2 separate regions of the Homo sapiens genome follow, and region 2 is linked to region 1. The links come from fine-mapping of genetic effects on gene expression. A gene starts in region 1. The other region holds a variant in brackets. All regions are shown on one strand. Distances are between the middles of the regions.

What was found. PIP is the estimated chance that this variant, and not a neighbour inherited with it, causes the effect.
Region 2: its variant is fine-mapped to the expression of MIGA1 in adrenal gland (GTEx, PIP 0.93).

Annotation. Positions count from the first base shown.
Region 1 is chr1:77,776,859-77,782,323 of GRCh38, reverse strand. It overlaps MIGA1 (mitoguardin 1), which reads right to left and starts at 2,675. Exons shown (of 16, transcript NM_001416120.1): 1 at 2,588-2,675. It also overlaps the pseudogene RNA5SP21. RefSeq lists an enhancer at 2,699-2,788.
Region 2 is chr1:76,951,159-76,956,158 of GRCh38, reverse strand. All of the region lies in intron 2 of ST6GALNAC5 (ST6 N-acetylgalactosaminide alpha-2,6-sialyltransferase 5), which reads right to left. Among named protein-coding and RNA genes, the nearest start is that of ST6GALNAC5, 86 kb to the right of the region's middle. The variant C/T (reference allele first, on the strand shown) is at 2,181.

The DNA of each region.
Region 1 (5,465 bases):
AATATTTCATTCAGGCCAAGAAAACGCCTAAGCATTATCTCTAATGCACAAGAGAATGGGCTTCTCTAATAACCACAATGTTTATGTCTACCAAATTTATTATTTCTTTTATTTGGGTAGTGCTGTATATTACATAACAGAATATAAAAATTACCAGCAATCCCTCTATAAAAGTTTATTTGCGGCTGGGCACAGTGAGTGGCTCATGCCTGAGCACTTTGGGAGTGACTTTGGGAGGCCGAGATGGGTGGATTGCTTGAGTCCATGAACCCAGGAGTTCGAGACCAGCCTGGGAAACATGGTGAAACCCTGCCTACACCAAAAAAAAAAAAAATTATTTGCTACACTTTTTTAGGCCCTTCATTTCTGCATACATTTCTATGTTCTCTTTTTCTATACTCCAATAGACTATCCCCTTCTGTTAATACCCACCTGTTTTCAGACAAGTGTCAAAACCACTGATTAAGTAGTGGTTTCCTTTAAAATCAAACACAGCAATACCTCTTAGGGTGGGTTACTACTACTGATGCTTCCCTTAATCCTTACTAGGGATACAGCAGTATAAACTTAATCCCCCCTACCAGTGTTCTAAGTACAACTTTTAGATTCAGTATAGTTAGTTCTACTTGACATACATTTATTTCAGTCAACAACCTGTGATAGAGACATATGATTAAAAAGTACAGAGGAAACCATGAACAGTTAAGAAAGTGAAAAATGGTCCTCTGGAGAATAAGACAAGGGATATAGAAAAGCTGGGCAAAGAATGACTGCTTTTCCTTATAAGTCTGTTTGTAATACTTGATTTTTAAAAACCTGCCTACATGTATTACTTTTTTAATATTACTACAGTAAAAAGGAAGTGGGGGGAAGCTCATTTATTCTTCCCCCTCCCTAAATATTAACACATTTTATTTTGAGAAACATTTTTACTAATTAGATTCTGGATCATTAAGCAATCTATGCTACTGCATTTAAAAAACGTATTGAGTAATTCACCCAAAGTAATTTTCCCTATAATGGAGCATTCCAAATTTTTAAGCAGAATAGAAAGAAAATAAAGCAAACACTTTAATTGGCTGCAGAGATATTCTTAAAAGATTATGACAAACCTCGGCCAGGCGTGGTGGCTCACGCCTGTAATCCCAGCATTTTGGGAGGCCGAGGTGGGTGGATCAGTTGAGGTCAAGAGTTCAAGACCAGCCTGGCCAATATAGCGAAACCCCATCTCTACTACAAATACAAAAAAATTAGCCAGGAGTGATGTCGGGCGCCTGTAATCCCAGCTACTCGGAAGGCTGAGGTAGGAGAACTTCTAGAACCCTAGGGGCGGAGGTTGCAGTGAGCAGAGATCACGCCATTGCACTCCAGCCTGGGCGACAGAGCCAGACTCCGCCTCAAAAAAAAAAAAAAAAGAAAAAAGAAAAAATATTATGACAAACCTCTATTTTTGCATTCTAACTACCTCATTCTTTTTCATTTAATATTACTGAGGAAGTTGATTCCAAACCTAATCATTATTCATTGAAAAACTAAAGAAAAAAAAACAAAAAACTAGTCATTTCATTTGCTTTCAGAAGCATAATAAAAATAAACATGAAGGGGGTTTCATGATTATTCAAATTTATAGACGGAATCTATAAAACATAACCAAAAATATTGTCCTGTGTGATATTACTTGCTCCTCTACATTCCAACTACTGGGGAATTAAAAATAAGTGTCATAAACAGTTTCTTAGACATCTTAAAATTCTATCCTGCAACTTTGACTTTATAATCCAACAGGAAGGAAAGTCTGAAGTATCAAAAAGAAAATTGACGTGAAGCACAAATCTATATAACCTAACTCTGACACTTTGAACAGAGCAAACATGTTTAGCTGCAATAACAACAACAATAAAACAACAATAATAAAGGTTTCAAAGTCCTGTGCAAAAACAAGCTGAGTCTTCCCTCTGGAAAATAGATAATTTAACAACTTTACAGAAGGACCTGACACCACAATACTCCCGTGCTAAATTATTCTCTTAAAGCACCTGCAAAGCAGAGTAATCTTTCACATCCAAAAGCCACTCCCTGCTCAAAACCACCCGCATCCAAGCCGAACCTGAGACCTCACCAGCTGCCCTACCTCCAGCGCGCTCTCCCCCGACCCCACAGCAGCCCCTCGCGGAGCTCTCCTCTGCTGTCTTCCTTTTTCTTTGCCAAGAACACCAGAAAAGGGGGTCCCTCCAGCTCGGCCGTCCAGACCCTTCCTCTGGCTCAGAGCAGTGGCGAGCCCATCCCAATTCCGCGCTTCCTTTGCAGGCCTCCCTCTGGCGTGGGGACCCTCCTGCTTTCCTATGCAAGTACTAACCAGGCCCGACCCTGCTTAGCTTCTGAGATGAGACGAGGTCGGGGGTGTTCAGGGTGGCACGGCCGTAGACCCTCTGGCTTTCCGCCGCTCCACCTGGCACTCCGAGAGCTAACGCCAGCGATGGAGTCCGCGCCACCCCTGCCCCGAGGCCTCTGCCCCAACTGCGTGGCCGCTCAACTCTCCGCTTCCTCCCGCCCGCCTCTCCACCCCACCCCGCCCCTGGCCCTGTACCTGGAGCTCCAGGCCAGGTACAGCTGGCCTGCCCACGCCAGCTTCCCAGCTGATGCCTGGCGCTGAGCAGCAGTCTGACATGGAGAAGGCGGAGTCCTTCCGGGGTCAGGAGTGCGAAGGTGGAGAGAAAGTGGAGGGGGCCTTCCAGGCTTTCTGCGTGAGGGACTACGTGTGAAGCAGCTCCCGCCATTTTTGTTTAGGGTAGAGGCTCCTTCCTCGTCAAGTGGATGCAAAAACTATATTCGAAGAATTGCATCCTTTTACAAACCGGTAAAAAAAAAAAAAAAAAACTAGTATTGTAGTTCGTAACCTGTCGGGGGATCTAGAACGGTTGTCAATCTGGTAAAAATTATGGAGGGTTTCCCCTGGAAAAAAAAAAATGTGTATACACATGCTCATTACATTAAAGAAAAAAAAGTTACACAATTTCAAAACCCTGAAAACAAGATTAAGAACTTCTACCACAGGCCCTCAGCCCTCAGATGAATGAGTGTTAAGAGGCATTCCAATCCGGTATAGATGATGCATTTATTATTGATTTCATGTCCTCTTTACCTTTTTTTCTGTGTTTCCCACTGAATTAGGCAACCGAAGAATATTGAATGTGGCAATTTATTGGCAGAGTAGTCACCTCTCTCAGGTTCTAATACATAGTAAACTAATAGGGGGCCGGGTTAGGAAAAAATAACAACAACAAAACCCAAGGTACTGTTTCTACGTTCAGTCTTCAGTCAAAACATTCCATCAGAACTGCAGATTTAGGCGGGGCACGGTGGCTGAAGCCTGTAATCCCAGCACTTTGGCGGGCCAAGGCGGGCAGATCACTTGAGGTCAGGAGTTCAAGACCAGCCTGGCCAACATGGCGAAACCCCATCTCTACTAAAAGTACAAAAATTAGCCAGGCACCTGCCTGTAATCCCAGCTACTCGGGAGGCTGAGGCAGGAAAATCGCTTGAACCCGGGAGGCGGAGGTTGTGTGAGCCCAGATAGTGCTACTGCACCCCAACCTGGGTGACTAGAGTGAGACTCTGTCTCAAAACAAAAAACAAAACAAAACAAAACAAAACAAAAAAACTGCAGATTTAAGAATTCCAGTTGCTGAGCATATTTGTGGTGAAAAGCCAAAATAATTCTGTTTTCAAAATTCCCATTTAACCAAATGGAAAATAGAATAGTAGTACCAATTTATGATATTATTAGATTAATAATAACTAACGATCCACAGACTGGGTTTTATGTGAAAATATTTTGCACTTATAGGGTAAATGGAGCTCTTGAGACTTGAAGAACCTGAAATTTGTAAGGCTATTTTCATTTATTTTCCCAATTTCCTCCTCTTTCCCATTTCCCACAGCTTCCAAACATTCAACGTAATGAGAATAGCAGTAATGATGATGACTACCACTCAACACAACTTTCCTGAGACCATATTATCTCCTTAATTCCACAATAAACATTATGAGAAAAATAGTATTACACGGTGGGTACAGAGTTTATTCTTTAGCATGAGAATAAGATATGTCACATTTAGGCCAAGTGAGGTGGCTCACATCTGTAATCCCAACACTTTGTGGGGCCGATGAGGGAGGATCCCTTGAGGTAAGAAGTTCGAGATTAGCCTGGGCAATAGCAAGACCCTCATTTCTACAAAATAATAATAAAATATATAAAATAGAAATATCACATTTAATTTATGTTTATAAACCAAATGTAATTTGCTGTAAGCCTCCCTTCTTCTGGTTTGGCAGAGTACTGCACTCAATCTTAGCCATTATTGGATATATTAGTTAACATATTCGCTACAAGTAAAAGAAAACCAAACAAGTAGTGGTTTAAACCAGAAGGACAGGGGACTCAATGTCTTCTGATATTGGAGACAAGGAAAAAAAAATTGGAGCCTGGATTAATTCTGAAGGCCAGTACCTCCCCCAGATAACCAAGCCATCGTGTAATGCTCACTAAACCAGAGAATGGAGTTCATGGAGTACTACCAGTTGTTTCTTCTGTACAAGTACTGCAATACATGCTACAGCAACCATTAATGAATTTAGGGGATCCTATCTGCATAATATCAAAACAAAACTGTGAAGTCAGACTGCCTGGGTTTGAATCCTTTCTTGGCCACTTACTAGATGCATTGTTAAAGGAAAAGAAACACAAAGCTATTTTTCTGTAGTTTCAACACTTCTGACTCCAAATGTGTGGAGGTTTTTCCCCACCAAACAAGTCTCCAATTATTTCTTATTATAAACTCCACTCTTTAATTTAGTGTCTACCAACTGGGTGTTGTACAGTTAAATTTAATTCAATACTATGCACCAAACCCTTAAGGGCTCAGTCCTACAAGACTGCCCCCACTTCAGATACCAATTGCAAATCCCAGGTTGTCACTTGTACTTCTGACCAACCAGCTATAAATCAGGAATTCCCACAATCTTCTCCTCCCATCCCAAACCAGTCTATTGATTTATAACAGAAGATATTACAAAGGATACAGATGAACAGCCGGATGAAGAGGTACATAAAACAAGATCTGGAAGGATCCTAAGTGCAGGAACTTCTGTCCCCATGGAATCAGGGTGTATGACCTTTTTGGGATATGGATGTGTTCACCAACTCAGAAGCTCTTAGAACCCCGTACTTCAGGGATTTCTGTGGAGGCTTCATAATGTTGTTACCAGAAAGGGGTACCAATCCAGATCCCAAGAGAGGGTGCTTGGATTTCGCACAAGAAAGAATTCAGGGCAAGTCCACAGTCCAAAGCAAAAGCAAGTTTAAGACAGTGAAGTGGTGAATGTCCACTTACTCTATAGACAGAGTAGGGCGTTCCCAAAAGGAAGAAGAGGAATGCATCCACTCTAGGTACAATATTCATTTA
Region 2 (5,000 bases), 830 kb after region 1:
TTTCAAAGTATGGGAGACGATGACTCCTAACAGTAACATTACAGATAAGTTTTATTTTCCCTTTTTTAGTTTTTATTTTCCCAATTTCCTACAATAAGGCAGTACCAATTTGATAATAAAAGAAATTAGAGAAGGGAAACAGAAAATAACTAACCATGTACCTCTTACTCCTCATCTTCCCACTGAAAACTGGAGGTGGTGGAGACAGTGGTGAAAAGATTATTCCTTCTATTTTAAACCATAAGAACAAGAGCCAAGAAGCAGAATCACTCAGATTCCTATATAACCCCTGCTGTTTCCTTCCCTGCCCAGGCAGCCAATGCTGCACTGGTTGCTCAATAAGTCAGAGGACACTTAGTAGAAAATCAGCAAAAACTTAAAATGAAAAAGACTCAGATTGAGTTTAGTGAATTATTCTGATGAAAATATGCAAAATCAAAAGGACCTCAAGAAGTCTGGATGTGTATTTAATGTGGATTTATGGACTTCATTACAAAAAAACATTGATTAATAATAACCTACTTCCAAACAAAACTCAATGTGTGCCAGTAGTTGGAAGTAAAGTTTGTAAACACTTTCAGAGTCATCTCATTGTCCTAGGATTCTAGCTCCCTAAGTCTTTTTTCATAATTTACTCTATGTTAAAAAAGGCATGAGTGGGGAATATCACAGAAAAACATTATTAAAATGTAAACACATATAGCAACTGAGTCAATTACTACCATACTGATTGCTGAATTTACCCTCACCTTTTGTAAGAAATTAAACTAATCCCTGTTTGACACACCTAAGGAACACAGATTTTTAGAGTAAGAGGAGGACCTTGAAGCACATCCAATTCAGATTGATGTGCAAAATGAGCATTACAGTATGCAACATAGATGACAGTGGTCAGGTCCCCAGACAGGCCTCCAAACCTCTGCCTGGACCACACTAATCGTACCCTAATCTGCAGTAATATGAATAGCTGCCACTGAGCAAACTCTGTGTGCTTGGAAAAGTGCTAAGTTTTGGGTTTGTCTGTTTAAACCACTACATCTGCTTTTTTTCCTTCATGCCGCTTTTCACAATGGTAATACCATTTCACTAATGTGCTTATTTGTTCACTGTCCACCTCTTCACTGGATTGTAAACTCTTTGAGGGCAAAAATCATGACTGTTTTGCTCATTGCTGTATCCCCAATCCCTTCTCCATAGACCAGAACTCATCAAGTATTTGTTAAATTAATGAATATAGCTTTTGATTCTTGGAGTTCTCTCCATTTTAACACTAAGGGAAACTGATAGTGAATAAGGCATTTCCTCAAAGCTGGTAAATGTCAGAGCCAAGGTTCAGACCCAGCTCCATTTGACCACAGAGGCCATGATTATTCTACTAAGCTTCCTGGCCACCCAATTAGTTTGAAAATAATCTATTAATTAAGCAATTTCAAAGTAATAGCATGAATTACATCCCATTCCTGCTTCCTCCCTCTGAGGCTAGTAAAATGTGAGTTTCAAACCTGAGTTTTAATTTTCTACAAAATGATACTAATGCTACCTCTGGGCCCTTATGTTCTTATAATGTTTTACATATGTATTTATTTACAAACACTCACTCTTTCTTTTTTTCCTCTCAACATCTATTTTAAGCTTGGGGTACATGTGCAGGATGCGCAGGCTTTTTACACAGGTAAACGTGTGCCATGGTGGTTTGCTGCAAAGATCATTTCAGCACCTTGGCATTAAGTCCAGCATCAATTAGCTATTCTTCCTGATACTCTCCCTCCCCTCCCACTTTCCAACAGGCCTCAGTGTGGGTTGTTCTCCCACATGTGTCCATGTGTTCTTATAATTCAGCTCCCACTTATAAGTGAGGACATGAAGTGTTTGGTTTTCTGTTCCTGCATTAGTTTGCTAAGGATTATGGCTTCCAGCTCCATCCATGTCCCTGCAAAGGACATAATCTCGCTCCTTTTTAAGGCTGCACAGTATTCCATGGTGTATATGTACCACATTTTTTTTGTCCAGTCTATCACTGATGGGCATTTAGGTAAACACTCATCATTTCTAACCATCCATATGACTACTTTTTCCCTCCTAATCAATAACATACAATATAGTTTAAACCAATAAAGTGCTGGAGCCACCCTGTGCTGGCTCCCAGAACTGATTGTTAAATTTTTGTGAGCTAGTTGTTA[C/T]GCACAAGCATTATTTTTAAAACTTATAATGAAATGAATTATATTAAAAACAAAAATTTCATTGGAGAAGGGATAACTTTGAACAAACAACACGGGAACAATTGGACACCAATGGGCAGAAAAATGAACCTTGATTTAAAACCTCACACCACATGAAAAATTAATTCATAATGGATCATGGATTTAAATGAAAATATAAAATTCTAAAACTTTTTATTTAAAAATAAGTGAAAATATTCAGGATGTAAATCTAAGTAAAGAGTTCTTAGACATGACACCAAAAATTGATATATGATTTATCAACATTTGAAACTTTTATGCTGCAAAAGACTCTTTTAAGAGAATGAAAAGACAAGTTACAGACTGGGAGAAAAAGCTTGCAAACCATATATCTGACAAATTTCTTACATCTCGAATATATAAAGAACTCTTAAAACTGTATAGTAAAGAAACAAACTCCAATTAGAAAATGGGTAAAAGACATGAGGAAACATTTCCCCAAAGAGGTGATACAGGTGGCAAATAAACACATAAAAAGATGTCCAACGTCGTTATCCATTAGAGAATGCAAATTAAAACCACAATGAGATATCAGCACATAGCAATTAGAACTGCTAAAATGGAAAACAGTGACAACACAAAATGCTGGTGAGAATACAGAGAAGCTTGATCTCTCATACATGATGGTGGGAAAGGAAAATAATACAGGCACTCTGGAAAATAGTTTGGAAGTTTCTTGCGCCAATCATAGGTCCCAGCAATCAGTTTTAGGCACTTATCCCAGAAAAATGAAAAGTTATATTCGCATAAAATCTATATACAAAATACACAAATGTCTATGGCAGCTCTATCCATAACAGCAAAGAACTGGAAACAACCCACATGTCTATCAATGGGTGAATGGTTAAACAAATTCTGGTTTATCTGCACAATGGAATACTACTCAGAAATAAAAGAAATGATACATGCAACTATGTAGACGAAACTAGGGTATTATTCTTAGTGAAAAAAGTCATCTCAAAAGTTAATGTACTGTATAATTTTATATTTATAACATTCTGGAAATAAAACTATGGAGATGGAGAACAGATTAGTAGTTGTGAGAGGATGGGGAGTAAGTGGTAACAATAGAAAGAGGAAGCACAGGGAGGGTGTTCCTTTATGGTGATGGGGCAGGCGAGGGGGTGCACAAGTGCAAACTCTGGTTTCTTTTTTAATTTTTATTTTTTTGTGACCATGGTGTTTTTATTTTCTACAATTATTTTTAATTTTTTAAACTTTTTAGTTTTAAAAAATTGACACATAATAATTGTACATGTTTATGGGGTACATAGTGATGTTGCAATACACATGATGGACAGTGATCAGATCAGGGTAATTGGCATACCCATCATCTCAAACATTGATCATTTCTTTGGGTTGAGACCATTCAATATCTTCATTCTAGCTATTTAAATCTATGTATTATTGTTAATTCTGTTCATATTTAACTACAGTGTTATAGGATACTCCGGTCTCTTTTTATAAGGTCACTAATCTCATCATGGGGACCCCACACTTGTGACCTCATCTAAACCTAATTACATAAATCTAATTACCTACCAAAGGAGCCTTCTCCAAATACCATCACATTGGGGGTCAGGGCTTCAACATATAGACTTGGGGACATACACGCACATATTCAGTGCATAATAGTGAAAATGTTATATAAGGCCTGCTACGGTACCTCTCTTTCCAGCTCTGCATTCAGTGATATCTCATTGGGAGCTGGAAACCAGCTGTAAGGAAGTATTATATCATAGAAATAAGCAAACACCACCAATCAGGACTTGATTTGCTATACTGTTGATTATTAGAAATGGATGGAGAAAATGTAAATATTACATATTAAACTTCAAAGTGTGCTGTGTTTGTAGACATTACATCATGAGCAGCACAAAACTGGAAAAATAGTGGTGGTCTATTATTTGAAAACTGTTATTTGATTCAGTAAGGAAGTTACTAATATTATGGAGGAGCAAATGAGGTTCCAACACAGGTCTTTTTGGTTTCACCTTCTTCTTACCTACTAAGGTAACCAAAAATACTAACCATATTATTTTGGGACTATATTCATTCATCAGTTGCACCCATAGGTTAGCTATAGATACAATAATTTGGCAAAAATCAATAAAAACATTCTTAAAGAAACGATTGGGTACATGGAATTTAGAACAAAGAATACTGAACATTTTATTGTTATTTGTAAATTATGTGCTCTTTATTGGGAAAATTAATAATAAGCTTAAACACACACCTTTTTAAATATACATTCTTGGCAGTTTAATTTTAATATTTCATTAAAATATTATCTATTATACTTTGTGTTCTGGGGTACATGTGCAGGTTTGTTACATAGGTATACACGTGCCACGGTGGTTTGCTGCACCCAACAACCTGTCATCTACATTAGGTATTTCTCCTAATGCCATCCCTCCCCTGACCCTCCCAATAACTACAGATCCAAAACAGGCCCCAGTGTGTGATGTTTCCCTCCCTGTGTCCATGTGTTCTAATTGCTCAACTCCCACTTATGAGTGAGAATGTGCGGTGTTTGGTTTTCTGTCCTTGACACACACACATTTTTAAACAGTCAGTGTTCAAATATTTACCAGCACAACACTGGCTTAAACCCAATCTTCATTTTGTTCTTCAGTGGAGACAATCACAGCTCTGCTCCTCTTTAAAGTGGTGATGGAGGTTAACTCTGTTGCATCTGGCTTTTACCTTTTGAAGCTGCCATCTTTCAGGGAGACTGATTTGATCCGTGGTTTGTTCAGA